7 linked regions of the Homo sapiens genome follow. The protein of the gene in region 2 purifies or fractionates together with the protein of the main gene of each other region. This does not show direct contact. Each region holds a gene or a part of one and is shown on either strand. Other genes may lie near its edges.

Region 1 (4,466 bases), on a different chromosome or scaffold from region 2:
ACCTGCTCTGGAGGAATATCTGTTAACACATCAGACAGACGAAGGCTTCTCTCAAGTTTTCCAGCTGTGTTGACTGAACAAAACTACTATGATACACTATTATACAATTCTCTAAAAAACCAATAGGCCGGGTGTGGCAGCTCACACTTGTAATCCCAGCACTTTGGGAGGCCGAGGTGGGCGGATCACTTGAGGCTAGGAGTTTGAGACTAGCCTGGGTAACATGGAGAAACCCCGTCTCTATTGAAAATACAAAAAATTAGTTGGGCATGGTGGCACGCGCCTATGATCCCAGCTACTTGGAGGCCGAGGCACGAGAATCGCTTGAACCCAGGAGGCAGAGGTTGCAGTAAGCCAAGACAGCACCACTGCTTTCCAACCTGGGCAACAGAGCAAGACTCTGTCTCAAAAAAAAATAAAATAAAATAAAATAAAAATAAAAAATAAAAAGCCAATGGTCTTAGCTGAAATGCATAACGAAAGGGCTAAGACAAAACTTTCTACAGGAAGTGTACAGATCTGAAATATCAACTATAATCTAATGTTAGCACCCTTACAGAACAGTTTTTATTTCATGCACTCTCCTGATATTTGTCCACGTACACATTTTTCTATAACTGCAATCATGATGCAATTTGAACTTATTCAAGCTTTTTCATGTTTTTTTTCTTTTTTAAGAGATTGCTGGTTTCAAACTCCTAGGCTCCAGTGATCCTCTCGCCTCGGCCTCCCAAAGTGTTACAATTACAGGTGTGGGCCACCACGTCTGGCGAATATTTTCTTCTATAAAATTAGTTCCTTAACTCCTGCGTCAAACAGTATAAACTTCCAGATAGGGATTTACCAATATATACCATGAGGCTTCAAAATACTTACATAATCTAACCCAATTATTCCACGTATAGGAATTTATCCTGATGCAATAATGAGATATATAAAAATATTTATATAAGGCCAGGCACGGAGGCTCACCCCTCTAATTCCAGCACTTTGGGAGGCCAAGGCAGGCGGATCACCTGAGGTTGGGAGTTAGAGACCAGCCTGACCAACATAGAGAAACCACATCTCTATTAAAAATACAAAATTAGCCAGGTGTGGTGGTGCATGTCTGTAATCCCAGCTGCTTGGGAGGCTGAGGCAGGAGAATCGCTTGAACCTGGGAGGTGGAGGTTGTGGTGAACCAAGATCATGCCATTGCACTCCAGCCTGGGCAACAAGAGTGAAACTCCGTCTCAAAAAATAAATAAATAAAAATATTTATATATAAAGTTGTTCGGTCAGGCGCGGTGGCTCACACCTGTAATCCCAGCACTTTGGTAGGCCAAAGAGGGCAGATCACTTGAGGTCACAAGTTCGAGACCAGCCTGGCCAACATGGTGAAACCCCGTCTCTACTAAAAATACAAAAATTAGCTGGGCTTGGTGGAGGATGCCTGTAATCCTAGCTACTCGGGAGGCTGAAGCGGAGAATCACTTGAACCTGGGAGGTGGAAGCTCCAGTGGCCACTACACTCCAGCCTGGCCAATAAAGTGAGACTCTGTCTCAAAAAATAAAATAAAATAAAATAAAATAAAATAAAATAAAATAAAGTTGCTCATCACAGTATTATTTATAATTGCAAAAGGCTAGAAGTAGTCCAAATGGTTACAAAACTTCTGATGTACCAATATGATTAGCATGTAACCTATAACTATATAATTAAAGAATATTTAATGATGGCCAGGTATGGTGGCTCATGCCTGTAATCCCAGCACTTGGGGAGGCTGAGGCATGAGCCCAGGAATTTGAGACCAGCCTGGGCAACATGGCAAAACTAGCCAGGCATAGTGGCACCTGCCTGAAGTTCTAACTTTTCAGGAGACTGAGGTGGGAGGATCACTTGAGCCCGGGAGGTGGAGGCTGCCTGCAGTGAGCCGAGATCGTGTCATTGCATTCCAGCCTGGGTGACAGAGTGAGACCCTGTCTCAACAACAAAAAAAATTTAAAAAAAGAAATATTTAATGAGAAAAATAATTCATGTATTTCATGCTATTACTTAACTCTTACGACTCTATAGATATCCTTATTATTCCTGTTTTACAGATAAGGAAACTGGGTCTTGGAAAGGTTAAGTAACTTGCCGAAGCCCACAATACGGTACAGCCAATAGACCTGGAATTTTAGCCCAGAGCATATATTCTTTTTTTTTTTTGAGACGGAGTCTCGCACTGTAGCCTGGGCTGGAGTGCAGTGGCGTGACCTTCGCTCACTGCAACCTCCGCCTCCCGGGTTCAAGCGATTCTCCTGCCTCAGCCTCCCACGTAGCTGGGATTACAGGCGCCCGCCACCACGCCCAGCTAATTTTTTGCATTTTTGGTAGAGACAGGGTTTCACTACGTTGGCCAGGCTGGTCTCAAACTCCTGACCTCATGATCTGCCCGCCTCGGCCTCCCAAAGTGCTGGGATTACAAGAGTGAGCCACTGCACCCAGTGACATTCTTTCATAATAGCTGGTTTTTTTCTTTATGTTTTTGTGGGGTATCAAAATTACTGCCAATAAACATGTTACTCATATAATTTAAATAAATGTTAATTTTAAAAATGAATTTGCTGGCTGGGAGTGGTGGCTCACACCTGTAATCCCAGCACTTTGGGAGGCCGAGGTGGGCAGATCACCTGATATTGGAAGTTCGAGACCAGCCTGGCCAACATAGTGAAACCCCATCTCTACTAAAAATACAAAAAAAATTAGCCAGGCATGGTGGCGGGCGCCTGTAATTGCAGCTACTTGGGAGGCTGAGGCAAGAGAATCGCTTGAACCTGGCAGGCGGAGGTTGCAGTAAGCCAAGATTGCACCATTGCGCTCCAGCCTGGGTGACAAGAGTTAAACTCCAGCTCAAAAAATAAATAAATAAATAAATTTGCTATAGGTTCTTGAACTCTCCATTTAAGAACTCTTTCTTATATGTCAAAATATTTTAAGACACCCCCTCCACAACACCCACAGCAGTACTTTCAGTATCTGTTCGTTCACAAATTGTCCAATGACCAAAAATAACCATGCATTCAGCATTCAGTAATGCTTTTTCTAGCAATGGGATTTTTTTTTTTTTTTTTGAGACAGAGTCTTACTCTGTTGCTTAGGCTGGAGTGCAGTGGCGCAATCTCAGCTCACTGCAACCTCCACCTCCCATGTTCAAGCGATTCTCCTGCCTCAGCCTCCCGAGTAGCCGGGATTACAGGTGCGTGCCACCATGCCCAGCTAATTTTTGTATTTTTAGTAGAGATGGGGTTTCACCATGTTGGCCAGGCTGGTCTTGAACTTCTGACCTCAAGTGATCCACTGCCTTGGCCTCCCAAAGTGCTGGGATTACAGGTGTGAGCCGCCATGCCAATGGGAATTTTTTTTTTTTGAGATGAAGTTTTTGCTCTTGTTGCCCAGGTTGGTGTGCAATGGCATGATCTCAGCTCACTGCAACCTCTGCCTCCCAGGTTCAAGTAATTCTCCTGCCTCAGCCTCTCAAGTAGCTGGGATTACAGGTGTGTGCCACCATGCCTTGCTAATTTTGCTTTTTTTTTTTTTTTTTTTTTTGGGAGATAAGAGTCTCGCTCTGATGCCCAGGCTGGAGTGCAGTGGTGCAATCTCGGCTCACTGCAAACTCCGCTTCCCGGGTTCACGCCATTCTCCTGCCTCAGCCTCCTGAGTAGCTGGGACTACAGGCACCCGTCACCATGCCTGGCTAATTTTTTATAGTTTTAGTAGAGACAGGGTTTCACCATGTTACCCAGGATGGTCTCCATCTCCTGACCTCGTGATCTGCCCGCCTCGGCCACCTAAAGTGCTGGGATTACAGGCGTAAGCCACCGCGCCCGGCCTAATTTTGTATTTTTTTTAGTGGAGATGGGGTTTCACCATGTTGGTCAGGCTTGTCTCAAACTCCTGACCTCAAGTGATCTACCCACCTTGGCCTCCCAAAGTGCTGGGATTACAGGTGTGAGCCACCACGCCCGGTCACCAATGGGATTTTAATAACCACAATAATACCTATGGATTCACAGACCTCCAGTCCCTCAAGATGTGGCCTATATGGTGGAAACCACCAGCAGAGGGAACCCAGGTCAACCAGTGAGAAAAGACAGAAATCACAATAGTGGAAATAATAACGAAATAGCGACCTTTTCAATCTTTTTTATAAACTTGTTGCTTTTTAATAGGTGAGATAGTCCCATGGTTTGAAAATGTAAAAACATAAAAAGGTATAAAGTCTCCCTCCCACCCTTTCCCCCATCTGCCCAGCTCCCACCACCACTATTACCCGCTAACACCCTTATAGCTATTCATTTATGTATTAATATTATTCAGGCATATGCAATCAAATACAAATGTATGTTTTTGCTTTTTTTACACAAATGATAGCAAAATGATACTTGCTTTTATTTCTTAACAGTATGTCATAGAGATCTCTCCATATCAGTACATGCAGAGC
Region 2 (3,515 bases):
CAATTCTGGCATCATGACTAATGTAGATCCATCTGAATGGCATCTTTCAGCTGCTGCAAAAGTTAAGGAAAATCCTCTATGGAGAAAAATATCCTCAATCCTAATTTTGGCCCATACAGTTCCCCTGGTTAAGATCAAACAATGAACTCAAAGATCACTAGACACAAAAGAAGGGCAGCTACCAAGAGAGTCAGCAGACACAATAAGCAATAGCTGCTGACCTTAAGAACTATCCGATACGGATAGCAGTTGTACTGTGTGCAATGTCTAAAGTTAAGGATAGGCCGGGCACAGTGGCTCACGCCTGTAATCCCAGCACTTTGGGAGGCTGAGGTGGGCAGATCACCTGAGGTCAGGAGTTCAAGACCAGCCTGGCCAACATGATGAAACCCCATCTCTACTAAAAATACAAAAATTAGCTGGGCATGATGGTGGATGCCTATAATCCCAGCTACTCGGGAGACTGAGGCAAGAGAATCACTTGAACTTGGGAGGCGGAGGTTGCAGTGAGCAGAGATCATGCCACTGCACTCCAGCCTGGATGACAGAGCAAGACTCCGTCTCAAAAAAAAAAAAAAAAAAAAAGGATGTAAAAATGACCAATTAGTAAGAACTATGAGGAATGAACAGACTTGAAAAAAGGAAATTTTTTTAGATATGAAAAGCCAGTTTTAGAAAGTCAACAGATTAACAAGAATTATACAATGAATTAGAATTTATAACTGAAGAAAGGACTCAGAATGTAGCACAGACAGAAGATGGAAAATTTTGAGATAGTAGGAGATACAGAAATCTAATTAATGTATCTAGGCACTGAAATTGATGGCTACTAACATCACAAAGAGAGCCAAGAAGACATTATGTGCTTCCTGATGGAAATACATACCACTACCTCTCAAATATCCCTGTAGAAAAAAAAAAACTAATTTAAATCTGACCAAGCCTTTCCATCTAATTACACACTTATGAGAAATACACCAGACAGAGGAAGTTTGGCCACACCATGGAATGCAGTCAGCAAAATCTAAACTGTACATCATTCTAGATGACAAATGACTCAATAACTCAGTTTCTTCCAAAAATAAATTGCAGAGGAGATGGAAGGGAAATCTATAGACTAAAAAAAGACACATATATGGACTTTATATGGATCCTGATTTGAACCATAAAAATCATTTATGAAGGCCAGGCACAGTGGCTCATGCCTGTAATCCCAGCATTTTGGGAGGCTGAGGCGGGTAGATCACCTGAGGTCAGGAGTTTGAGACCAGCCTGGCCAACATGGTGAAATCCTGTCTCTACTAAAAATACAAAAATTAGCTGGGCGTGGTGGTGGGTGTCTATAATCCCAGCTACTCAGGAGACTGAGGCAGGAGAATTGCTTGAACCCGGGAGGCAGATGTTGGAGTGTGCCAAGATCGGGCCATTGCACTCCAGCCTGGAGGCAACAAGAGTGAAACTGTGTCTCAAAAAAAAAAAAAAAAAAATCACTTATGAAATAACTGGGAAAATCTGAATAGTTATTTTAGATAAGATAATTTTTTTAAGTGTGATAATGTATTGTAGTTTTTAAAACCATCTGTTACCAGGTGTGGTGGCACACACCTGTAGTCCCAGTTACTTAGGAGGCTGAGGTGGGAGGATCACTTGAGCCCAGGAGTTCGAGGCTGCAGGGAGTTATATCATGCTACTACACTCCAGCCTGGGCACTACAGCAAGGCCCTATCTCAAAAATAATTTTCTTAATAAAAATAACATTCTGATACAGATGAAGTGATAATATTCATCTGTATATGTATAAGATTTAATTCAAAGTAACTGGGGGACACAGAAGGAGGATAAGCAATAGGTGTTGGTATAGATGAAACAAAACTGTCCGTGAACTGCTATACACCGAATATCACTGATGATGCCTGGGGGTTCACTATGCTTTTCTAATAGCATAGTGAAATTTCCCATAATAAAATGTTAATTTTTGTTTAATGTAAAAGGGAGATTCAAACAAAAAAACTCATAAAAGCAAACAACCCAGACAGAAAGATCTGGTAAGAAGAAAGTGAAATTATTATTCCATTTAAAAATAAATTATTAATACTAAAATTAGCCAGGTGTGGTGGTGCATGCCTGTAACCCCAGCTACTCAGGGAGACTGAAGCAGAAGAATCACTTGAACCGGGAGGCAGAGGTTGTAGTGAGCCAAGATCATGTCACTGCACTCCAGCCTGGGCGACAGAGCAGCAACTTGTCTCAGTAAATAAATAAATAAATAAATAAATAAAAATTGTATCTTTTCTATTCTTCCCTCAAAATATTCACTTATATCCACTGAGGGTGTCAAATAACTAATATGCTGCAAGGAAGGATCTTTCTATAATCAAGGCATCTTTGTGATGTGATTTTGGACAGAGATTAAATAACCAAATTCAACCTATTACAGTTGCCTAAATGCAGTCTCACACACACATATACAAACAATAATGTAGCAGTGTACGGTGGGGCACAGGGAGTAGACTTGCCAAAGAAAAGTTGAACTAACAGTGATGACCCCTGCTAGGCAGGAGCCATAAATTATATAATGTGTTGTAAGCATGATATATACACCTGATTTTGAAGACTTCATCTTAGAATAAATTTTAAGTATATCTTTTTTTTCTTTTTTTTTTTCGGAAACAGGGTCTTGCTCCATCACCCACGCTGGAGTGCAGTGGCACAATCACAGCTCACTACAACCTCAACTTTCCTGGCTCAGTGATTATCCCACCTCAGCCTCCTGAGTAGCTGGGACTAACAGGCATGTGCCAACATGTCCCACTCATTTTTTTTTTATTTTTTGTAGAGATGGGGTTTCACCATGTTGTCCAGGCTGGTCTCAAACTCCTGGGCTCAAGCGATCCTCCCTGCCTTGGCCTGTGCTGGGATTACAGGTGTGAGCCACCGTGCTGGCCTCAGTACTATTTTTTATTGATTATATGTTGAAATAATAATATTTTGGATGTAGTGGTTTAAAAAATTATTTCATCTGTTTCTCCTTACTTTTTAATGTAGCTTCTAGAAAATTTAAAATTATTTAAGTGGCTCACATTTGTGGCATGCATTATATTCCTATAGGAGTACTGGTCTGGACTTAGATGAACTTTAAGCTTTCTATAACGCAAAAGAGAACACCTTGATAGCAGAGGAGTGACCAGAGGAAACAGTGCACTGGGCTTTAACAATCTTTCCTACGTAGTATGAAGCAGCAGCTGACCAAAAAGGACCAGAAGCATTGATGGCAGCTGGCGAGTCTCTATACCTGGCAAATCCAGTGACAAATCCCAGCTGCTCTCAGCAGAAACAACTGGTTTAAGTGCATCTTTGTGGGTGCCTTAATCTCCTGCAATGATCCCGCCTCAGCCTCCCAAGCAGCTAGAACTACAAATGCATGCCACTACGCCTGGCTTTTTTTTTTTTTTTTTTTTTTTTTTAAAGAAATGGGGTCTTAGCCGGGCATGGTGGCTAACACCTGTAATCCCAGC
Region 3 (4,466 bases), on a different chromosome or scaffold from region 2:
ACACGCTTGTGTGTGTGTGTGTAGAACTGATAAGATCTCTTGAAGGACTGGTGTGAGAAGAAATGATTCAAGGGTGACTAACTCAGATTTTGGCTTGAGGAGCTAGAAGGATGAAAATCTCAGTAACTGAGACAGAGAAAACCTCAAGTTTTAGGGATAGGTCAAGAGTTTAGACGTGGGTTTGTTGGAATTAATGGTGATATTTACACATCCAAGGACCAGTATATGAAATGATGGATATACAAGTCTGGAGGTCGGGGGAAAGGTCTGTGTGTGAGTCATTAGCTCAAAAATGAATTTTTAATATTGAGAAGTGTTGATCTTGACTAGTAGGATTTCTTTTTTATGGTGTGGTTCTGTCTAAGTGTACAGTACACTTTTATCATTTGGAAGCTGATTTTTCTCTTTTATAGGAAAGCCAGATCTTATTTCTTTCTTCTTTCTTTGGCCTCTTTTTGGTGTGTTTTATTTCTCATTTACACGAAGAATATAGCTATCTGCTATAGAGCTAATGGCTTTGATGGCAAAAACATATTGGCTATGATATTCATTGTATTTAAGGACATTTTACTTTCTAATCTTTATTCTAGATCCCTTTGTATTTTTTTATAACTTTAATACTATAATAGTTATTTTTATGAGTATTTACATTTTAAGTTGTCTTGTTTCTCACAATTACAAAAAGTGTGTTTTACATTGTATCTCAAAATACTTTTTAAATTTCAGTTATCTGACAATTCCTGAGTTCAAAAGCATACTTTTCATTGAAGTGATTGAAAAAAATAGGTATCTTAACAAGATGTGTATTTGCATTCTAACTTTACTATAACCATGAATTATTTTTTTTAGAGGTTAGAGAGAAATATATTGAAAGTTATAAAATGATTGTGTTATTCTTTTAGGTGAAATTGCCAAATACATGGAAACAGTGAAATTACTAGACTACACTGAAAAACCTCTTTATGAAAATTTACGTGACATTCTTTTGCAAGGACTAAAAGCTATAGGAAGTAAGGATGATGGCAAATTGGACCTCAGTGTTGTGGAGAATGGAGGTTTGAAAGCAAAAACAATAACAAAGGTGAATTTTGTTATTAAATTATTCTTTGGTCTTCTTGTGTTTATAATTGCAATAAATACTAAAAGAAAGTATAGCAGTAGTTCAATGAAGAACAATAACAGATTGCATGGCAATTAAGGCAAACATTTTTTGTAATACAGAAAATGTGTAGAGGGTTGTAGAAAAATAAATATTTATATATTTCTTATGTTTAGTAGCAAGTTACTAAATTCCTGAACTGATTTTAACTTGGAATACTGATATCTGACAGGGAAATTTTGATGGTGCACTGAATTCATAATTTATATGTTCTTTTCTCCCAAGTCACCACTTAGGGTTCATCTTGTCTTGGTTGTTTCTTATTTGTGGATATGGTCAGAGTATTTACCAGTTGAAAACGGGCATTTGAAAAATTACCATTTGAAAATTTCCTTGTTTGTTGGTGTGGTGCATTTTACCATTTGAACATTATTTTGCTCTGTGAAGAAATATTATATAAAGCTATATATCAGCATATAAGGGGATTAATTGTTTGGAGAGAAATGTTAAATAATGAACTTTATGGTAGAAGTATTATACAAGCATGTAAAGAACTTCTGGCATCACTTTAGATTTTACAGGTATGCATTAACTTACTGATTTGCTATTGATTATTTTTGATAATTAACTTACTGATAAACTTACTGATTTCCCTTATAATCTGAAATTATTTAATACAATGTGTTAGCTATTTTTATATGAGGAAGGAAAACAACTTTTAGAAGAAAAATTTTTTTTACATTATTAACCATTTTTACTGTCATTAACTTTGCAAATTCTAATAGATTTATTTGGAAATCTCGTATTCCAAACTGAGAAAAAGCGTTAAAACAAATTTTTCTCTCTTTAAAATCAGACGCAGCACATTGAAAAGTTTTTATCTTTTCAATTAACAAAGGAGATAGGAATTTTGAAATTGGACCAAAAATTTAACTTTGCCAAATAGCAGGTCTCTGTAATTTCATCATAGAATCTGAAATTATATACATGCATCTACATATACTTTTTTTTCTTTGATAAGTTTTATCTTAATTGCATCTGCTCCAGTTTTGTGGTCAACAAGTGTGCTGAAAACTGTATCTGTTTGAAATGAAGAGGGTAAAATGGAAGCCTGAGTGGAATTTTTTAGTAAGGTATTATAGTAAACTTACTCTTTGCATACATGCATAAACAAGCAGCATGTTTCTTATTGCTCAGGATAGATTTCTCTGCGTTAATATTTATAGGTAGCTTGTATAGTGTTTTTCTCTAAAATTTTGGTGATTGAGAAGTAAAGATCTCTGCTGCTATGTGAGAACTTGTCCAGAGCAACCACCTCCCTCCGCCCAACCCCCATCCCCCTGTCCCCGCCCCTACCTTCCTTTGCAAATCCCTTTGTTGTTTGGACTTACATGCTGGAGAAAATGTAGTTTCTGCAGGTTGGCTGACTTTACAGCTGAGTAGGTCAGTCTGCTGCAGAGCTAACATCTGTGACCTTATAATTCTGTGGTGTCCTTGGATAGTTCAGAAGGCTGGAAATTTCCTGTTGGATCATCCCTGACATGTATAAAGCTTCATTTAGGGGAAAAAAATGAATACTAAGTTGAACAAGTTGAACTATTAGGAGATTTATTTCATTAGTTTACTACTTTTTGTACACTCATTGCTGACACAGGGTTATTCTTTGTATTAAAAAGAAATTAATAAAAGTTAAGGTTAGGTAAGATCATGAGCTGCTTGATAGCCATGTAACTGAAGTGAGTTATTAATTTTGTTAGCTTTTTTTTTTTTTGTAAAGTGAAAGAACTGGACCAGACCAGTTTTTTTTCAAGCTTTTCTTTTAAACTGCAGAACATTTTCTTCATATAATTTGTAAATGCTGTCACTGAAAACAGATAAAAGCAGAGCTCTGCTGGATGAGAAGTTGGGGGCTCCCTGCAATGAAAAGCTTTCTCCTTTGAGAAACTAGCTTGCTGCCTCTGTTTTTCAGCAAGATCTATAACCCAGATGTCTTTTTTTGCTCTGGATGTCAGGAGGCTCAAAACTAAATATGATGCTTAGTTCTAGAAACTGTTAATTTTAATAATTAGTACATTTGTTTCCTCTCTTTTCGTTTGTCATAATTTTTGAAAGTGTGAAGTATATTTTCTGTGTATATATCAGACTCAGATCTCTTTTGGAAAGGGGTAGGTTTAATCAGTTTAATATATGTTTGTATTTAGGTTCCTAAGAAATATTCTTTTTGGTAAAAACCTACAGGAATTGATGAACAGTGGAATGAAGCAAGGTTTCTTGTCTATGTTTTTGCAGCCATGCTTGATTATGGTGCAGTATATTTGGAAACTAGAGTGAAACATGAATTTACCCACTTGGAAATGTTTTCTGCTTAATAATCAAGGAGCTTTATTTAAAGCATAGAATTTTGGGATGACATAAGGCTGAAGGAGAACAGAGAGATCAAGTATACATCTGCCCTTAAAAAGTACAAAGTCAAATATTTTTATTGTTGATTAGAACTAAACATTTTCAGTTTTTAGAATCTGGCAGTACAGTGCAACAGTTATTGGATTCAGTGTATACTCATAAATTAACATTCAACAATTACATAAAAAGTCTAGTTTATGTACCTGATCTAGGCTAGGTCTCTAGGGCTACGGAGATCAATGACATGTGGTCCCATTCTTAAAGAATTCCTTCCTGTTCCATCTGGGTTAAGAACAGCTTAATTTACTGGAAAGAGCTCAGCAAGTTAAAAGGACATTAACACTTCCATGAACTATTTTAGGGTTTTAAGTTGCCTGCCTAAGTCAACAAAAAGGGTTGTTGACTGGAATCTCATCCCTGGAAAGTCGTTGAGTAAGGTCTAGATCATGGCCTTGCAATTTGTATTTTAGTTTTTCATTTTCAGACAGCCTATATTGTTGCTCCCTATGAATGATTATTCACATACCTTTCTTTCCTTCTCTATTTTACCTCCTAATTTTAAAATTTTAAAATTTTATTTTTCTGGCTGCATTATGCTAATTGGTCTTTCTAGAGTTTCTCTTATTTAACCATTGTTAAATAAACCCTTGCTGGCATTTAGCCTGGAACAGGGTACAAAGAGTTGAATAAGTGCAAAGCCCTTCCATTGCAAATCAGTAGCCTGCAGCTGCTCCGGTGGACAGCTTTCTTCCTTTCTTTCTGAAGGGATTGCACCTCGTACAGCCTTTATACCATTGTAGCCTATAGTTTCAGTCGGGTTGCCCTGAATGTGCTCTAAATTTGGTGAAAATCTATCTAGCTGTTTTAGCCTGATACGGTAATAAAGATAAACTGTATTTTAATTATATAAATTTTAGATTGTTGAAGTACATTCCTGTTTTCTAATGGTTTGATCATAGTACTG
Region 4 (4,466 bases), on a different chromosome or scaffold from region 2:
TGAAAGGCCACTCAAAATTAGATCTGAGTATGAATGAGTCTGAACTATAAAACTAACGAGATAGATGGCTTAAGACAACTGACTAACCTTTCTGGGCTTCAACTTTATCTGCTAAAAATGAACAAAGTAGGCTACAGTATGTCTCAATTCAAATTACATTATGGGGACTTTAAATATCTAAATTTTCCTACCAGTCTCCTGGAAAGGATCAGAAAAGGACATGAAAGGTTGAGAATATCAGAGACATCAACATTGATCCTTGATATAAAGGGAAGAGGATATGGCATGCAGAAAGAAGAGGCTTAAAATACAGGTTTAGTTGACCTCTAACTTCCCTTCCAGTTCGAATATTTTATGCTCAAGCAGGAGTAAAACACCAGAATCCCTTATTGTTTTTCCTACTGAAACTGAAAATATCAAGAAGCTTCAGTTAGAAACTTTAGATTAAACTCCAAAACTCAGGACTCCCAAACTTTCGCCTTAATCAGAGAAAGGACAAAGTTTATTCTGGTATAATTTACATTTCAGAAAAATAAATTCTTTTTGGATCAAAAGTATCACTGCCAAAAAGATCTTGTTTTCATGTCCACAAACGGTACCAAATCAGCCTGTTACGTTGGGCTTTCTAAATATAATTTAAAAAATTATTTCTTTCATGGGAGGGTGTTAACAGCAGTAACAAATCCCTCTATCATTCTTTATGAAACCACGGATATACAAATCCAGATACAATATAGGAATTTCAAAACTAAGTTCCAGTACTATCCAATGCTATCCTAAAATTACAGAGACAGTGTAATAAGAACATTAAACTGGGACATGTGTGACCTTGGACAGGTCATTTATGTTCTCCATGCTTCAGTTTCTCATTTGTAAATGGAGATTATGAAATGCAACTAATGCTTTAATGATAAAATTCTATCAAGCATCTCTGTGTTTTAGAGAATAGTTATCCCCAGGTAAATATTCTATTTTCAAATACTAAATTTTATATCTGGAGTCATTTATTTAATTTTAAAAATGAAATATATGTATATTTAAAGAAGTTCTGAAGGGATATAAACCAATACCTATTAACCATAATTATCTCTGGGTGACAGAAACAAAAATAATTTCTATTTACCTCTTTTTGCTCATCTACAGTTAATTTTTCTACAATAAACAGACTTTCATAATAAAAAAGAAAATAAAGTTTTTTAAAAATGAAATTAATTCAAAAAGCAAATAAAGGTAAACAATCTTTTTAGAAATTCATACTTTGGAACTGAAAATTAAATATATCAACACTTATAAATAAACTTACTGAATTAATATGCCTATTGGAAGAGGAACAACAAAGAACATTAAACACACACTGCAATGTACTTTCCTATTCTGATTTCTCTTTTGAGCCCTAGTGCTATTACCATGTATCTTCACTTCTTTACTCTTATCAAGATTTCAATGTAATCCCCCCTTGCATTTCCAAAGTTGTTAAGAAAAAATTACCGATAAGACTTCTATAATCTCTTAACCTCGAATTTCTTTTCTCTTGTTCCTGGCTGATGGATTTCCACTGCAGTTTCATTCTGAAGTATTCATCACTATAGAAAACAATTTGACATCAAAGAAAGCTATTTGAAAACTTTATTTTTAACACTGTTTAATTGGGTTTTTCTATAAACAGTATATCAAAGCATTTATGATGCTAGTGGAATGTAAGTTTATAAAAACAATAGCAAAACGTTTAAAGTTATGATAAATAAGTGAAAACAAAAGAAAAAAATAACCGATAAATATCACAAAGTTTATGTGATAAACTTTGTTCAACTACTAGAATAATTTTAGGTATTCTTTTACAAAAACATTTATCTCATCCTTAAAATCATGTCTAAAAGTATTCTAGTCATGAAATATTTTAACCACTAAAGTTTCCAAATAATTGTAAATACAAATCTAAGTGACTTTTTTTTTAAAAAATGTGACATTATAGTTCCATTTCCAAGCAGTTTATTGCAGAAACTAGTTAATGTAAAAATGTCTTAGAAGAACTGGTAAACAAGCTGAAAAGAGAAGACTGTCAGATAACTTAAATATGCACATAATGACTGAAAATAGCTTTAAATCAAAGGCTAGACTGACAACTGAGAACAAGAAGTTGTACCTGGAAAGTTGGTCTGTGTTTCCTTTCAAGTCTGAGGAATAACTTAAAATAGAAATACTCTTCCAAAAAGAATGAAGGATCCATTATAAGAGTATCAGAAAAGTAACTTAAAGGTAATTAATCTAAATAGCAAATATATTTCTTATGAGCCATTTATAATTTCATAATGAATTATAAAAATGAATCAAGATGAATGAGAGATGTTTTTAAGTGTATGTCTACGTAGTTATCTTTCAAGTATGCAAAAGGCTTGTACAAGGCTTATATAAGGGAATATGTTTATCTTCTTTTTACATATTCACAAAAATAAATGCAAAAAGGTGCTTCTAGTAAGTTTCTGATTTAAAATAATTAGAATGCTCATAATTTTTAAGTTAAAACATAAAAATGAAGTTGTTTTTCCATTCCCCAGTCTATTCCAAATCCTCATCTAGAAACCCTATACTAATTTGTATGAGTGGGTTACTTGAATCTCTTTGATAAATGTACGAAAGACCATTACTTACGTTTTTTGCTTTTGTAATTGGGTTCTTTCCTCCTTGGTACTGTCCCAGGGAAAATAACCCAGAAGAAATTTCCATGCTTGCTTTCTCAATGCATGACTAAGTCCCTGAAGAAAGCATACATATTAAATACATGAATGAAAAAGAATGTAATACTGTAAGTTCACAAAACTTGCATATAAAAAGGAAAACTAATCTTTAAGAGGTAGTTTCATATATGTAAATAGTTCAATTCAGTGAATATCATCTTGTTTTTTACTTCTAGATCCAAAAGATGTAAGCAGCTGCCAGAAAGTTTAAACAGTGCACAGAATACAGTAGACTACAGAATACAGTAGACTACAGCAGACAGACAGTGTGACTGGTGAGTCTAAGCCCAATCTTACAGAATAAGGCAAATGCCACTGGAATGCAGGCCTCCTTCACAAAACCCACAGAACTTCAAGTACGGAAGAATTCTTCCCCCAGAGTTAAGGGTCTACCCAACCCCCAGGAACATCATAAGCACCTCACTCTGTCCTACTCAATCCAGGAATTTTAAGGCATCATTCATCAAAGAAATAACAGAGTTCATTCCTCCCTACTTCCCCCACCAAAAAAAAAAAAAACCAACAACAAAAAAAAACACACCAAAACAGTAACGATAACAACAAAACCCCTAAATACTAGGAGTTTATAAGACAAGCCATATTAGAGTGTTTAAATTACCCCTCTAAATATCATCTGCTTCATATTATCTACATTTAAAATTCTTCCTTCAGAATCAATGTTCTTAGTCCATTCTTCCAGTGATACCGGTTCTCTCCTTTGAACAACAGGGCGTTCCCCCAAATCAATCTAAAAATAAGATTAAGCAATAATAAGTACATATTTAACCAGTGAAATGAAATAAAGGCATATAGAAACTAAATTTAAAATACTGTTTTTCAGACATGACTTCTAATACTTTTAAGATTGTTCCTTATTTTCCCATGTTTAGTTTAACTATAATAGTTAGCATTACATGTATTTCCCTTCTACTAAACACACAACAAACTGGGTTATAAATTCAGAAACAGAAAACCCCACAGACTAAAAATATTTGTTATTAAAAGAAAGCTCTTTACTATTTTGGGTTCAATTATGTAAGTATAGAACATTCAACATGTAAATTCTGTAAGAAACCTTCAAACCAAATGATATGCTGTATTATTTAAAAAGAGAGAATATATAATTATTCCATTAATCATATTCTAAAAATTAGCTTTTCTTCTAAAGTTTGTATTTCTCAGAATTGATTCATGACCCACTAGCTTCACTCGGCATTTTCTATAGTGTTTTATTCAATTAACAGATGTTGGTAATTTTAAAATAGTATTTGCAAGATAAACCCTTTAATTAAGCACTAAAATTTAGATATTTATAGTTTTCTAACTATGTACAAGCCTAGAATTGTAGCAAATTTAAATCTTACTGAGCACATATAAAGATCTGCCATAATTCAGGCCAAAACCCATCTTACTTAAAAAAGGAAGTATTACATGAGAATAAAAGCCCTAAAAGTAGTATCCTGACTAGCTGTCTCTGATGCCTATGAGAAAACATGCAAGTAAGGAACAGAACTAAGAGGTAATAGGAAAGGTTCGCTCCTCACTCTGCTATGCACCCAATGAAACAAACTTCATTATCAAAAGGTAATCAAAGAAGAGAGATCCAACATTAATCAAGAAAGAGTATAAGATAGAGAACAAATGAAGAACTTAGTGGCAGGACAAGCACTCATTGTCAGATATACTAGCAAAAAGTTGTTAAGAACAGATTATGGAAAGAAGCAGATATCA
Region 5 (4,466 bases), on a different chromosome or scaffold from region 2:
TTCCAGAGGCCAAGAAGATGACCACCTTTGAGTATCTCATTAATAACCGCAAAGAAGAGAGTTCAAAACATCAAGCAGTGAGGAAAGATCCATACGTGCAAATGGACAAAGGAGTTCTCCAGGTACCACCTGTCTCTCTGCTCCATTTCTCCAGGCCTGGGACAATGTCTAAGGTCACTCGGTGGTTGGGACCTCTCAGCCATGCTCCTTTACTTCAGGGCCGATGCAGCCCATGGACTCTGCTGTGTGTGTGTCTGTGTGTGAGGCTCTGTGCATGGGTGTGTCTATGTGTCTTTGTGAACATAAACACCAGTCATGCACCACGGACTTCCTAGTGCAAAGATAGGAAAGGAACTGAGTCTCCTGGACATTTCTATACTGCACGATACATCTTCCAAAGTTGAAATGTGCTTTTTGCATCTTTTTTTTTGAGACAGAGTCTCGCTCTGTTGCCCAGGGTGGAGTGAAGTGGTGAAATCTCAGCTCATTGTAGCCTCCACCTCCTGGGTTCAAACAGTTTGCCTACCTCAGCCTCCCAAGTAGCTGGGATCACAGATGTATGCCACTACGCCCGACTAATTTTTGTATTTTTAGTAGAGATGTGGTTTTAACACGCCAGGCTGGTCTCAAACTTCTGGCCTCAGGTGATCCGCCCGCCTTGGCCTCCGAAAGTGCTGGGATTACAAGCATGAGTCACTGTACCTGGCCTGAAACATGATTTTTAACTTAAGGAAGTTAGTTCCCTTTCCGGTTAAGTGACATGAATTATTATAACTAACTCAAGAAGACATAGAAAGTCTAAATAGACATAGAACAGCCAAGAGACTAAACTACTAATTTAAAATCTCCCAGTGAAGAAAAATCCCAGGCCCTGTAGTCTTCATGCATGAATTCCAGCAAAGATTTAAAGAAAAAATACAATACAACCTACACACAGACTCTTTCAGAAAACAGAGAAGGAAGCAACACTTCCCAACTCATTCAGCAATGCCACTATCAACCTGACACCAAACCAGATATTCATAAGCCAGTACATTCAGGAAACACAGGCAGAGATCACTGATAAGACCTTGGGAAACCAAATCGAGCAGCACGGGGCAGGAATGTGCACTGTGGCCAAGTGATATCACTCCAGGGGTAAGCAGTGGCTTAAGGCCTAGGAATCAATTACTACAGCTCAGCACGTTAGTCCAATAGAGAACGGTAACCACGCAATCATGCCAATCAATGCAGAAAAGGGTTTGTTAACAGCAAGTTCCCATTCATGATTTTTAACAAATCTCAGTGACCTAGGAATGATAGGAAAGCACCCTGTGTACCTGACGTGACATTTACTGGTGAAAGGCTTGTGACCCTCTCTTGGAGGCTGGGCACAGGTGATGACGCCCTTTCCTCCTACTTCTGATATCACAGTCACATTCTGGCCAGCCCAGCATAGCAGGGAAAATGAAGGCACAGAGAATACAAAATAAAACTGTGTTTATTTGCAGACAATGAAACCTAAAAAGTATGTTTTAAGACCTAGTTAAGATAATTAAATCACTTAACAAGGATGTGGGGCACATATTAAAATACACGCTCGCACATCTCTATCCACCAGCAATGAAAAATCCGGGTTATATTTTTAAAACTTCCTTTCATAGTCTAATAAAAAAAGAATAAATTTGACAAACCTTATGCAAATATGTACACTGAAAGCTACACACCATGACTGAGAGAAGTCAGAGACGCTCTATTAAGTGAAAAGGTGTACAGCATTCATAGATTGGAAAAAAATACTATTAAAAGGGCAATTTTCCCCAAAACTTATCTACAGATTTACCACAATCCCTGCTGAACCCCAGCAGGCTTCTGTTTTAGCAGAAATGACAAGGTGGTCCTAAAATGTATATGCAAATTCAAAAGACCTAGGCTACTGTACTAGCCAAATGATTTTGAGAAAAAATAAAATTGGAGAACTTACACAACCAGACTTTAAATGTTACTATAAAGCTGTAGCACTAAAGACAGGTGGCGCTGACAGAGAGAGAGACATAAAGCTACAGTAATAAAAACAGTGTGGCACCGACAGAGACAGATATAGAGAAATGGACCAGAAGAAAGGTCCAAAGTTAAAGCTTTCATTTATGGTCAATTGACTTTAAATAATGGTACTAAAATCATTAAATAGGGAGAAATTATAGTTCAACAAGTGGTACTAGAACAATTGGATATCCACATGGAAAAGAAAAAAGAATGATTGAGTTCTTCATACCTGTACAAAGATTACCCAGGATCACTTCATTCGCCACGGAAGAATTAGCCCCAAATCCATCTGACACCTAAACTTAAAAGCTGAACATAGAACACTTCTAGAAACAAGCATAGAATGAAATCTCTGTGATCTTTAGTGAGACAAAGCTTGTCTTTGATCTGACACCAAAATCACTGCCTATTAAAGAAAAAAATCATAGTTTGGACTTTACCAAAATTGAAAATATTTGCTCTTCAAAAGTCACCATTAAGAAAATAAAAATACAGGCACACATGAGAGATACTGCAGGTTTGGTTTTAGAAAGCCACAATAAAGTAAACATGTCAGTAAAACAAGTCACATGAATTTCTGGTTTCCCAGTGCTTATAAAAGTTACGTTTACATGACGTGTGCAACAGCATTATGTCTAAAAACTATGTGTCTGAATTAAAAGTGCTTTATTGCTAAAAGCTGCTTACACAGACAATTGAAGTGAGCACACACTGCGGGGAAAATGGCGCCGACATACTTGCTTGACCAGGGTCACCACAAACCCTCAATTTGTGAAAAAACACAGTATCTGTGAAGTGCAGTAAAGCAATGCACAATAAAGCCAGGTGTTCATTCCTGTGCAAGCCACAGGCAAACAAAATATTTTCAAGTCTTAGACTGATGTCCAGAATACACAAAGACACAAAGAGCTTTCAAAGTGCAATTGTAAAAAAACAACAAACAAAAACATAAACAAACAGAAAACTCAGTTTTTCAAATGGGCAAGAGGGCTGGACACAATGGGAAGCACCTATAATCTCAGTGCTTTGGGAGGCCAAGCAAGAGGATTGCTTGAGGCCAGGAGTTCAAGACCAGCCTGAGCATCTCTACAAAAATAAATAAAAATACATACATACATATAAAAAATGGGCAAAAGATTTGAACAAACTCCTTACCAAGGTAGATGTAGATGTATAGATATATGGATGCCACATAAGCACATGGAAAAAAATGCTCAACATCATTCTACATCAGGCAGCTGCAAATAAAAACCACAATCAGATACTACCACACACCCAGGAGAATGCTTGTCATCAACAAGACAGACACCACCGAGGGTTGGTGAAGTTGTAGAGAAATTGCAAGTCTCCTGCGTTTTTTTGCTAGTGGGAGTTAAATGAGGGTGTAAAGTGCCACCACACTGGAAAGCAGTTTGGCATTTCTTTAAAAGATAAATGTCTAATACATGACCAGAATCCCACTCCCAGTTTCTCACCAGAGAGAAATGAAAACACGTGCACACGTAAGTGGTTCTGAGATCTGAACTCAGGACCCAAGAGAACTCCAGGTACCATTCCTCAAAACCCAGGAATAATAGACGTCACTTTTATGTAAGAATCAGCTGCATGTCAACAACTTCTTTTTTCATGTGACGAATTTTCTTTTGCCCCACAGCAAGGAGCTGGCGCCCTGGGCTCATCTGCACAGGGGTAAGTTGCAAGCTTCCTGCAGTAGCTTGGTCCTTCTGAAGAATAGCTGTATTCTTTTCTTAACTCAAATGACTTTGGAAAATAATTCACCTATGATGAGACATTTTGAAATCATGGGATGATGCAGTAGAAGATAAAATAGTTTTGTTTAATGTTGTTAAATTATACCAAATTATCTATCTCGATGTGCTTGTCTTACTTGCAGAAACTACATTCTTCACTCCCTTCTTCATAACTAACATCTAAACTAACACACAAGAGTAAGATCCGCTTATTTATTTCTACATCTCTCCATGAACATGTGGGTAGTTGTGAGTCTGAATGTATTTCTTATGATCTCTAATAGTGTTTCATAGACATTGTAAGCTCTGAGAGTCCAACCCATTCCTGAGTCAAGGTGCTAAGTAAATGGGAGCACTGGGGGTGCCTTGACCCGGAGCCCCACCCAACAGGGCCAGGGCTGGCTTCACAAACAGGGTTTCAAGAAGCGTCTTGGAGCTAGTGCTGTGCAGTGCGGTTCGTTTTATTTTGGAAGCTGAGAGTCAAAGGGCACGCGCATTTTCAGTCTTCACAGACTCTTTCTGATGACTTCTCAAAAGGGTGGAGCAGTTCACACTTCATTCAACGCTGTCGCTCTTCTCACTATGAGATACTAACAGTATGCTTAGTTTTATTCAAAGAAAATATATAATGTTTTAATATGCATTTCCTTACTACAATTACGACAACATTTTTTCATGTTTTGACCATTT
Region 6 (4,466 bases), on a different chromosome or scaffold from region 2:
AGTCCCTCACCAGCAACGGAACAAAGCTGGACGGAGAATGACTTTGACGAGTTGAGAGAAGAAGGCTTCAGACGATCAAACTACTCCGAGCTACAGGAGGAAATTCAAACCAAAGGCAAAGAAGTTGAAAACTTTGAAAAAAATTTAGACGAATGTATAACTAGAATAACCAATACAGAGAAGTGCTTAAAGGAGCTGATGGAGCTGAAAGCCAAGGCTCGAGAACTATGTGAAGAATGCAGAAGCCTCAGGAGCCGATGCGATCAACTGGAAGAAAGGGTATCAGTGATGGAAGATGAAATGAATGAAATGAAGCGAGAAGGGAAGTTTAGAGAAAAAAGAATAAAAAGAAATGAACAAAGCCTCCAAGAAATATGGGACTATGTGAAAAGACCAAATCTGCACCTGATTGGTGTACCTGAAAGTGATGGGGAGAATGGAACCAAGTTGGAAAACACTCTGCAGGATATTATCCAGGAGAACTTCCCCAATCTAGCAAGGCAAGCCAACATTCAGATTCAGGAAATACAGAGAATGCCACAAAGATACTCCTCGAGAAGAGCAACTCCAAGACACATAATTGTCAGATTCACCAAAGTTGAAATGAAGGAAAAAATGTTAAGCGCAGCCAGAGAGAAAGGTCGGGTTACCCACAAAGGGAAGCCCATCAGACTAACAGCGGATCTCTCGGCAGAAACTCTACAAGCCAGGAGAGAGTAGGGGCCAATATTCAACATTCTTAAAGAAAATAATTTTCAACCCAGAATTTCATATCCAGCCAAATTAAGCTTCATAAGTGAAGGAGAAATAAAATACTTTACAGACAAGCAAATGCTGAGAGGTTTTGCCACCACCAGGCCTGCCCTAAAAGAGCTCCTGAAGGAAGCACTAAACATGGAAAGGCATAACCGTACCAGCCGCTGCAAACTCATGCCAAAATGTAAAGACCATCGACATTAGGAAGAAACTGCATCAACTAACAAGCAAAATAACCAGCTAACAGCATGACAGGATCAAATTCACACATAATATTAACCTTAAATGTAAATGCACTAAATGCTCCAATTAAAAGACACAGACTGGCAAATTGGATAAAGAGTCAAGACCCATCAGTGTGCTGTATTCAGGAAGCCCATCTCACGTGCAGAGACACACATAGGCTCAAAATAAAAGGATGGAGGAAGATCTACCAAGCAAATGGAAAACAAAAAAAGGCAGGGGTTGCAATCCTAGTCTCTGATAAAACACACTTTAAACCAACAAAGATCAAAAGAGACAAAGAAGCCCATTACTTAAGGGTAAAGGGATCAATTCAACAACAAGAGCTAACTATCCTAAATATATATGCACCCAATACAGGAGCACCCAGATTCATAAAGTAAGTCCTGAGTGACCTACAAAGAGACTTAGACTCCCACACAATAATAATGGGAGACTTTAACACCCCACTGTCAACATTAGACAGATCAACGACACAGAAAGTTAAAAAGGATACCCAGGAATTGAACTCAGCTCTGCACCAAGCGGACCTAATAGATATCTACAGAACTCCCCACCCCAAATCAACAGAATATACATTTTTTTCAGCACCACGCCACACCTATTCCAAAATTGACCACATAGTTGGAAGTAAAGCTCTCCTCAGCAAATGTAAAAGAACAGAAATTATAACAAACTATCTCTCAGACAACAGTGCAATCAAACTAGAACTCAGGATTAAGAAACTCATTCAAAACCGCTCAACTACATGGAAACTGAACAACCTGCTCCTGAATGACTACTGGGTACATAATGAAATGAAGGCAGAAATAAAGATGTTCTTTGAAACCAATGAGAACAAAGACACAACATACCAGAATCTCTGGGACACATTCAAAGCAGTGTGTAGAGGGAAATTTATAGCACTAAATGCCCACAAGAGAAAGCAGGAAAGATCCAAAATTGACACCTAACATCACAATTAAAAGAACTAGAAAAGCAAGAGCAAACACATTCAAAAGCTAGCAGAAGGCAAGAAATAACTAAAATCAGAGCAGAACTGAAGGAAATAGAGACACAAAAAACCCTTCAAAAAATTAATGAATCCAGGAGCTGGTTTTTTGAAAGGATCAACAAAATTGATAGACCGCTAGCAAGACTAATAAAGAAAAAAAGAGAAGAATCAAATAGACGCAATAAAAAATGACGAAGGGGATATCACCACCAATCCCACAGAAATACAAACTACCATCAGAGAATACTACCAACACCTCTACGCAAATAAACTAGAAAATCTAGAAGAAATGGATAAATTCCTCAACACATACACTCTCCCAAGACTAAACCAGGAAGAAGTTGAATCTCTGAATAGACCAATAATAGGATCTGAAATTGTGGCAATAATCAATAGCTTACCAACCAAAAAGAGTCCAGGACCAGATGGATTCACAGCCGAATTCTACCAGAGGTATAAGGAGGAACTGGTACCATTCCTTCTGAAACTATTCCAATCAATAGAAAAAGAGGGAATCCTCCCTAACTCATTTTATTAGGCCAGCATCATCCTGATACCAAAGCCGGGCAGAGACACAACCAAAAAAGAGAATTTTAGACCAATATCCTTGATGAACATTGATGCAAAAATCCTCAATAAAATACTGGCAAACTGAATCCAGCAGCACATCAAAAAGCTTATCCACCATGATCAAGCGGGCTTCATCCCTGGGATACAAGGCTGGTTCAATCTACGCAAATCAATAAATGTAATCCAGCATATAAACAGAACCAAAGACAAAAACCATATGATTATCTCAATAGATGCAGAAAAGGCCTTTGACAAAATTCAACAACGCTTCATGCTAAAAACTCTCAATAAATTAGGTATTGATGGGAAGTATCTCAAAATAATAAGAGCTATCTATGACAAACCCACAGCCAATATCATACTGAATGGGCAAAAACTGGAAGCATTCCCTTTGAAAACTGGCACAAGACAGGGATGCCCTCTCTCACCACTCCTATTCAACATAGTGTTGGAAGTTCTGGCCAGGGCAATTAGGCAGAAGGAAATAAAGGCTATTCGATTAGGAAAAGAGGAAGTCAAATTGTCCCTGTTTGCAGACGACATGATTGTATATCTAGAAAACCCCATTGTCTCAGCCCAAAATCTCCTTAAGCTGATAAGCAACTTCAGCAAAGTCTCAGGATACAAAATCAATGTACAAAAATCACAAGCATTCTTATACACCAATAACAGACAAACAGAGAGCCAAATCATAAGTGAACTCCCATTCACAATTGCTTCAAAGAGAATAAAATACCTAGGAATCCAACTTGCAAGGCACATGAAGGACCTCTTCAAGGAGAACTACAAACCACTGCTCAATGAAATAGAAGAGAATACAAACAAATGGAAGAACATTCCATGCTCATGGGTAGGAAGAATCAATATCGTGAAAATGGCCATACTGCCCAAGGTAATTTATAGATTCAATGCCATCCCCATCAAGCTACCAATGACTTTCTTCACAGAATTAGAAAAAACTACTTTAAAGTTCATATGGAACCAAAAAAGAGCCCTCATCGCCAAGTCAATCCTAAGCCAAAAGAACAAAGCTGGAGGCATCACGCTACCTGACTTCAAACTATACTACAAGGCTACAGTAACCAAAACAGCATGTTACTGGTACCAAAACAGAGATACAGATCAATGGAACAGAACAGAGCCCTCAGAAATAATGCCGCATATCTACAACTATCTGATCTTTGACAAACCTGACAAAAACAAGCAATGGGGAAAGGATTCCCTATTTAATAAATGGTGCTGGGAAAACTGGCTAGCCATATGTAGAAAGCTGAAACTGGATCCCTTCCTTACACCTTATACAAAAATTAATTCAAGATGGAATAAAGACTTAAACGTTAGACCTAAAACCATAAGAACCCTAGAAGAAAACCTAGGCATTACCATTCAGGACATAGGCATGGGCAAGGACTTCATGTCTAAAACACCAAAAGCAATGCCAACAAAAGCCAAAATTGACAAATGGGATCTCATTAAACTAAAGAGCTTCTGTACAGCAAAAGAAACTACCAACAGAGTGAACAGGCAACCTACAAAATGGGAGAAAATTTTCACAACCTGCTCATCTGACAAAGGGCTAATATCCAGAATCTACAATGAACTCAAACAAATTTACAAGAAAAAAACAAAAAACCCCATCAAAAAGTGGGCAAAGGATATGAGCAGACACTTCTCAAAAGAAGACATTTATGCAGCCAAAAGACACATGAAAAAATGCTCATCATCACTGGCCATCAGAGAAATGCAAATCAAAACCACAATGAGATACCATCTCACACCAGTTAGAATGGCAATCATTAAAAAGTCAGGAAACAACAGGTGCTGGAGAGGATGTGGAGAAATAGGAACACTTTTACACTGTTGGTGGGACTGTAAACTAGTTCAACCATTGTGGAAGTCAGTG
Region 7 (4,466 bases), on a different chromosome or scaffold from region 2:
AATGTGGTTACACTGTACAGAGAGCAGATTTATCCAAATTCAACTCTAAGCCACTGGGGAGAAAATACTTTAAACAACTCAGATAAGTTTAGCTGCCATTCAACTACATGACCTCGGGACATGTCTTAGCATGAGCCAAAGATGAATCTGTGAGCCTGAAGTGTAGGAGATTATTTGCCCTCAGACTGAATCAGGGTGGTTCTACAGAAACCACCAGCCCAAAGGGCTTTGATTTGGCATTGACTGACACGAAAAACAAAGAAGCCTATGGGATAATCCTCACTGAGCTCAGATTTGTGGACCTAAGTATATGTTACAATGCAACAGGATATTTAAAAAGGTAAGTTTTTGCTAAAATGAGATTAGAACTGAAAAACAAAAAACAACAAAAATTAAGTTAACACCAGTGTGCATGACTAGAATAGACATTACTACAAAGAATACATACAAATGGCCACTAATACATGAAAAGATGCTCAATGTCACTAATCATTAGGAAAAATGCAATTCAAACCTACAGAGAAGCCAGGCGTGGTGGCTCATGCCTGTAATCCCAGCATTTTGGGAGGCCAAGGCAGGAGGATCACTTGATCCCAGGAGTTCAAGACTCGCCTGGGCAACATACGGAGCATTCATCTCAAAAAAGAAAATCAAACAGAATTACTGTGTGACCCATCAGTTCCACTTCTGGGGATACACTCAAGAGAACTGAAAGCACAGTCTCAAAGAGATACCTGTACACCCATGTTCATAGCAGCATGATTCATCAGAGCCAAGAGGTTGGAGGTTGCAGGGAGCTGAGCTCGTGCCATTGCACTCCAGCCTGGGCGACAGAGAGAGACTCTGTCTCCAAAAAGAAAAACAAACAAACAAAAAAACACTACAATGACAACAAAGAAATTCAGGCACATAGTATGCTATGGATATACCTTGAGGACATTACGCTAAGTGAAATAAGACAGTCACCAAAAGACAAATACTGTGATTCCATTTATTTAAAAAAAATTTTTTTTTTTAGATGGAGTCTTCCTCTGTCACCCAGGCTGGAGTGGAGTGGTACCATCTCAGCTCACTGCAACCTCCACCTCCTGGGTTCAAACAATCCTCCCGCTTCAGCCTCCTGAGCAGCTGGGACTACAGGCATGTGCCACCACGCCCGGATAATTTTTGTATTTTTAGTGGAGACAGGGTTTCACCATGTTGGCCAGGCTGGTCTCTAACTCCTGACCTCAAAGTGATCTGCCCACCTCAGCCTCCCAAAATGCTGGGATTACAGGCATAAGCCAGGGTGGCCAGCCTGTGATTCCATTTATATGAGGTCCTGGAGTAGTCAAATTTGCAGCAACAGAAGGTAGAATGATGGTTGCTAGAGGCTGAGGGGAAGAGGAACATGGAGTTTGTTTCAGTATCGCAAGTCATGGATAGTCATGATGGTTGCACAACATTATGAATGTACTTAATGACACTGAACTCTACATTTAAAAATGGTTACAATGGTAAATGTTTTTATGCACATTTTACATAACAAACAGCGGTGTAGCACTTCAGCAGAAACCCTGTAAGAAACTTGAAAAGCTCCTGACAGAAATGCCTTTGAGGATGCACAGTATTGGAGTTAGAACTACCAAGATTTCACAAGGAATTACTAAGTTAGCAAGGATGTGTAAACTAAAAATAAAATTCTTGGCCGGGCATGGTGGCTCATGCCTGTAATCTCTTCACTTTGGGAGGCCAAGGCAGGTGTATCGCTTTGAGCTCAGGAGTTCAAGACCAGCCTGGGCAACGTGGTAAAACCCTGTCTCTAAAAAAAATACAAAAATTAGCCAGATGTTGGTGGCTCACACCATGTAGTCAGCTACATGGGAGGCTGAGGCTGAAGAATTGCTTGAGCCCGGGAAGCAGAGGTTTCAGTGAGCTAAGATCACACCACTGCACTCTAGCTGGGGAGACCCTGTCTCAAAAAAAAAAAAAAAAAAAAATCTAAGTCCTCATCCATACTAAGGACCCCTCCTCTTGGCCAAAGGTATTCCAAAGGTAACCTGAAAAACTACTTCAGGTCATGATGGGAAGTGGCGGTCAAATATGTCTCATTTTATCTTCCTGCCTTTGGAAGTCAGACATAACTGATCATCGTAAGACTTTTTTGTAGCAATAAGACACCAAGTTCCAGCCTAACTAATACAGTATGGAAAGAAATCAAAGTATTTTACCCTAAAATATATTTCTCTGACATATTTTGAAATGGCCCTGCAAAGCTATCTCTTGTGGGGAAAAGCTACATTCTACAGAGATTCCCTTTCCAGGTCTTTTCCCTGATTCAGGAGAGAATTAACTAAGAGTCTGGCACCTTTTTAAGTCTGATAAGAAATATTTACAATCTATTTTCTCTGAAGCCTGCTACCTGGAGGCTTCCTTGATAAACCCTTGATCTCCACAACCCGTCTTAAGCAAAATATTCCTTTCTATTGATTCTAGGTCTTTAGATAACTCTTTCAATCAGAAAATCTTTTTTTTTTTTTTCTGAGTCTCATTCTGTTGCCCAGGCTGGAGTACAGTGGCATGATCTCGGCTTACTGCAACCTCCGCCTCCTGGATTCAAGTGATTCTCCCGCCTTAGCCTCCCAAGTAGCTGGGATTATAAGCACCCACTACCATGCCCAGCTAATTTTTGTTTTTTGTTTTTTGTTTTTTTGAGATGCAATTTCGCTCTTGTTACCAAGGCTGGAGTGCAATGGTGCAATCTTGGCTCACTGCAACCTCTGCCTCCCGGGTTCAAGCAATTCTCCTACCTCAGCCTCCTGAGTAGCTGGAGTTACAGGCACCTGCCACCATGCCCGGTTAATTTTTGTATTTTTAGTAGAGACGGGGTTTCATCATGTTGGCCAGGCTGGTCTCGAACACCTGACCTCAGGTGATCCACCTGCCTGGGCTCCCAAAGTGCTGGGATTACAGGTGTGAGCCACCACACGTGGCCTAATTTTTGTATTTTTTGTAGAGATGGGTTTTGCCATGTTGGCCAGGCTGGTCCCAAACTCCTCAGCTCGATGCAATCCGACCACCTCAGCCTCCCAAAATGCTGAAATTACAGACGTGAGCCACAGCACCTGGCCAGAAAAATCTTTAAATGTGTCTATGACCTGGAAGCCCCGGCTTTCAGCTGCCCTACTTTTCCAGACCACACCAATGTACGTCTCACATGTATTGATTGATATCTCATGTCTCCCTAAAACGTATAAAACCAAGCTGTAGCCCGACCACCTTGGACACATGTTCTCAGGAGCTCCCGAGGCTGTGTCATGGGCCTTTGGTCACTCATATTTGGTTCCGAATAAATCTCTTGAAATATTTTATAGAGTATTTTCATTGACAGATGGTTGCTAAAATGCAGGTGGCAGAGCCAGCTGTGTTCTACCTATGACAATTTTCTGTGGCGCTCACCACCTTGCTCATGGAGGGGGGCTTTACCCATTGACTCCTGGAGTCATTCAGTCTCTGTGACTAATGCCTTTCATTCTACAACTTCCCACATATAAATGTGGCCTGGCTGGCTCAGTTTTTCCCTGGACAGTCTCCAGACATTATTTTCCTTCTGTTTCTACAAGCCTGTTTGCAACAAATCTTATGACACAAACAGATTAATTTCAACGACCATCACAATGTTGAATTTTTTTCTCCCTCAACAGATAAGCATTTTTTACACATCTAAGCCAAGATGCACAAAGGTCAATTATGCTGCAGGGCATTTGAGAAGGGGGTTGGTTCAGTTGCGAACTGACCGCTGAGATGCAAACCCCAGTGTCTGGTGGGAGGGACAAGGCAGGGACTTTCAGATTTTACTATAAATGCTTGAGTATTGCTTGAATCCTTTATGCTAAGAATGTATTTCCACTCTTCCTTAATGAAAAATAAAATTTAAAATTAGCCAGGCATGGTGGCAGGTACCTGTAATCCCAGCTACTCAGGAGGCTGAGACAGGAGCATCACTTGAACCTGGGAGGTGGAGGTTGCAATGAGCCGAGATCCTGCCATTGCACTCTAGCATGGGTGACAGAGTGAGAGTTTGTGTCAAAAAAAAAAAAAAAAGAAATAGAAAAAGAAAAAAAAAAAAAAACAGGTGAGCATGTTGGCTCACACCTGTAATCCTGGCATGTTGGCAGGGCAAAGTGGGAGGGTCACTTGAGGGCAGGTGTTCAAGATCATCCTGGGCAATATAGCAAGATCCCATCTCTACAAAACAAAAAATAGGCTGGGCATAGTGGCTCATGCCTATAACCCCAACACTTTGGGAGGCCGAGGCAGGCAGATCACTTGAGGTCAGGAGTTCAAGACCAGCCTGTCCAATGTGGTGAAATCCCATCTCTACTAAAAATACAAAAATCCGCTGGGCGTGGTGGTGCACGCCTGTAATCCCAGCTACTCGGGAGGCTGAGGCAGGAAAATTGCATGAACCTGGGAGAAGGAAGCTG

Evidence for each region.
Region 1: the proteins of VPS52 (region 2) and CIAO2A purify together in Homo sapiens (co-immunoprecipitation; one large-scale study listed by IntAct). This does not show direct contact.
Region 3: the proteins of VPS52 (region 2) and VRK1 fractionate together in Homo sapiens (co-fractionation; one large-scale study listed by BioGRID). This does not show direct contact.
Region 4: the proteins of VPS52 (region 2) and TBC1D15 purify together in Homo sapiens (co-immunoprecipitation; one large-scale study listed by IntAct). This does not show direct contact.
Region 5: the proteins of VPS52 (region 2) and ZDHHC11 purify together in Homo sapiens (co-immunoprecipitation; one large-scale study listed by IntAct). This does not show direct contact.
Region 6: the proteins of VPS52 (region 2) and EIPR1 purify together in Homo sapiens (affinity purification with mass spectrometry; 4 studies listed by BioGRID and IntAct, with this or other methods). This does not show direct contact.
Region 7: the proteins of VPS52 (region 2) and ARMC6 purify together in Homo sapiens (co-immunoprecipitation; one large-scale study listed by IntAct). This does not show direct contact.

Annotation. Positions count from the first base shown.
Region 1 is NC_000015.10:64,083,536-64,088,001, forward strand, and holds part of CIAO2A (cytosolic iron-sulfur assembly component 2A), read right to left. Parts: intron 1-4,466. UniProt on the Homo sapiens protein: Component of the cytosolic iron-sulfur protein assembly (CIA) complex, a multiprotein complex that mediates the incorporation of iron-sulfur cluster into extramitochondrial Fe/S proteins.
Region 2 is NC_000006.12:33,252,025-33,255,539, forward strand, and holds part of VPS52 (vacuolar protein sorting-associated protein 52 homolog), read right to left. Parts: intron 2,867-3,515; exon of another isoform or gene 2,674-2,866; intron 1-2,673. UniProt on the Homo sapiens protein: Acts as a component of the GARP complex that is involved in retrograde transport from early and late endosomes to the trans-Golgi network (TGN).
Region 3 is NC_000014.9:96,859,655-96,864,120, forward strand, and holds part of VRK1 (serine/threonine-protein kinase VRK1), read left to right. Parts: intron 1-902; coding exon 903-1,081; intron 1,082-4,466. UniProt on the Homo sapiens protein: Serine/threonine kinase involved in the regulation of key cellular processes including the cell cycle, nuclear condensation, transcription regulation, and DNA damage response.
Region 4 is NC_000012.12:71,894,964-71,899,429, reverse strand, and holds part of TBC1D15 (TBC1 domain family member 15), read right to left. Parts: intron 3,484-4,466; coding exon 3,355-3,483; intron 2,754-3,354; coding exon 2,650-2,753; intron 1,584-2,649; coding exon 1,489-1,583; intron 1-1,488. UniProt on the Homo sapiens protein: Acts as a GTPase activating protein for RAB7A. Does not act on RAB4, RAB5 or RAB6.
Region 5 is NC_000005.10:833,021-837,486, reverse strand, and holds part of ZDHHC11 (palmitoyltransferase ZDHHC11), read left to right. Parts: exon of another isoform or gene 1-6; coding exon 7-122; intron 123-3,679; coding exon 3,680-3,714; intron 3,715-4,466. UniProt on the Homo sapiens protein: Endoplasmic reticulum-localized palmitoyltransferase that could catalyze the addition of palmitate onto various protein substrates and be involved in a variety of cellular processes.
Region 6 is NC_000002.12:3,370,353-3,374,818, forward strand, and holds part of EIPR1 (EARP and GARP complex-interacting protein 1), read right to left. Parts: intron 1-4,466. UniProt on the Homo sapiens protein: Acts as a component of endosomal retrieval machinery that is involved in protein transport from early endosomes to either recycling endosomes or the trans-Golgi network.
Region 7 is NC_000019.10:19,046,573-19,051,038, reverse strand, and holds part of ARMC6 (armadillo repeat-containing protein 6), read right to left. Parts: intron 1-4,466.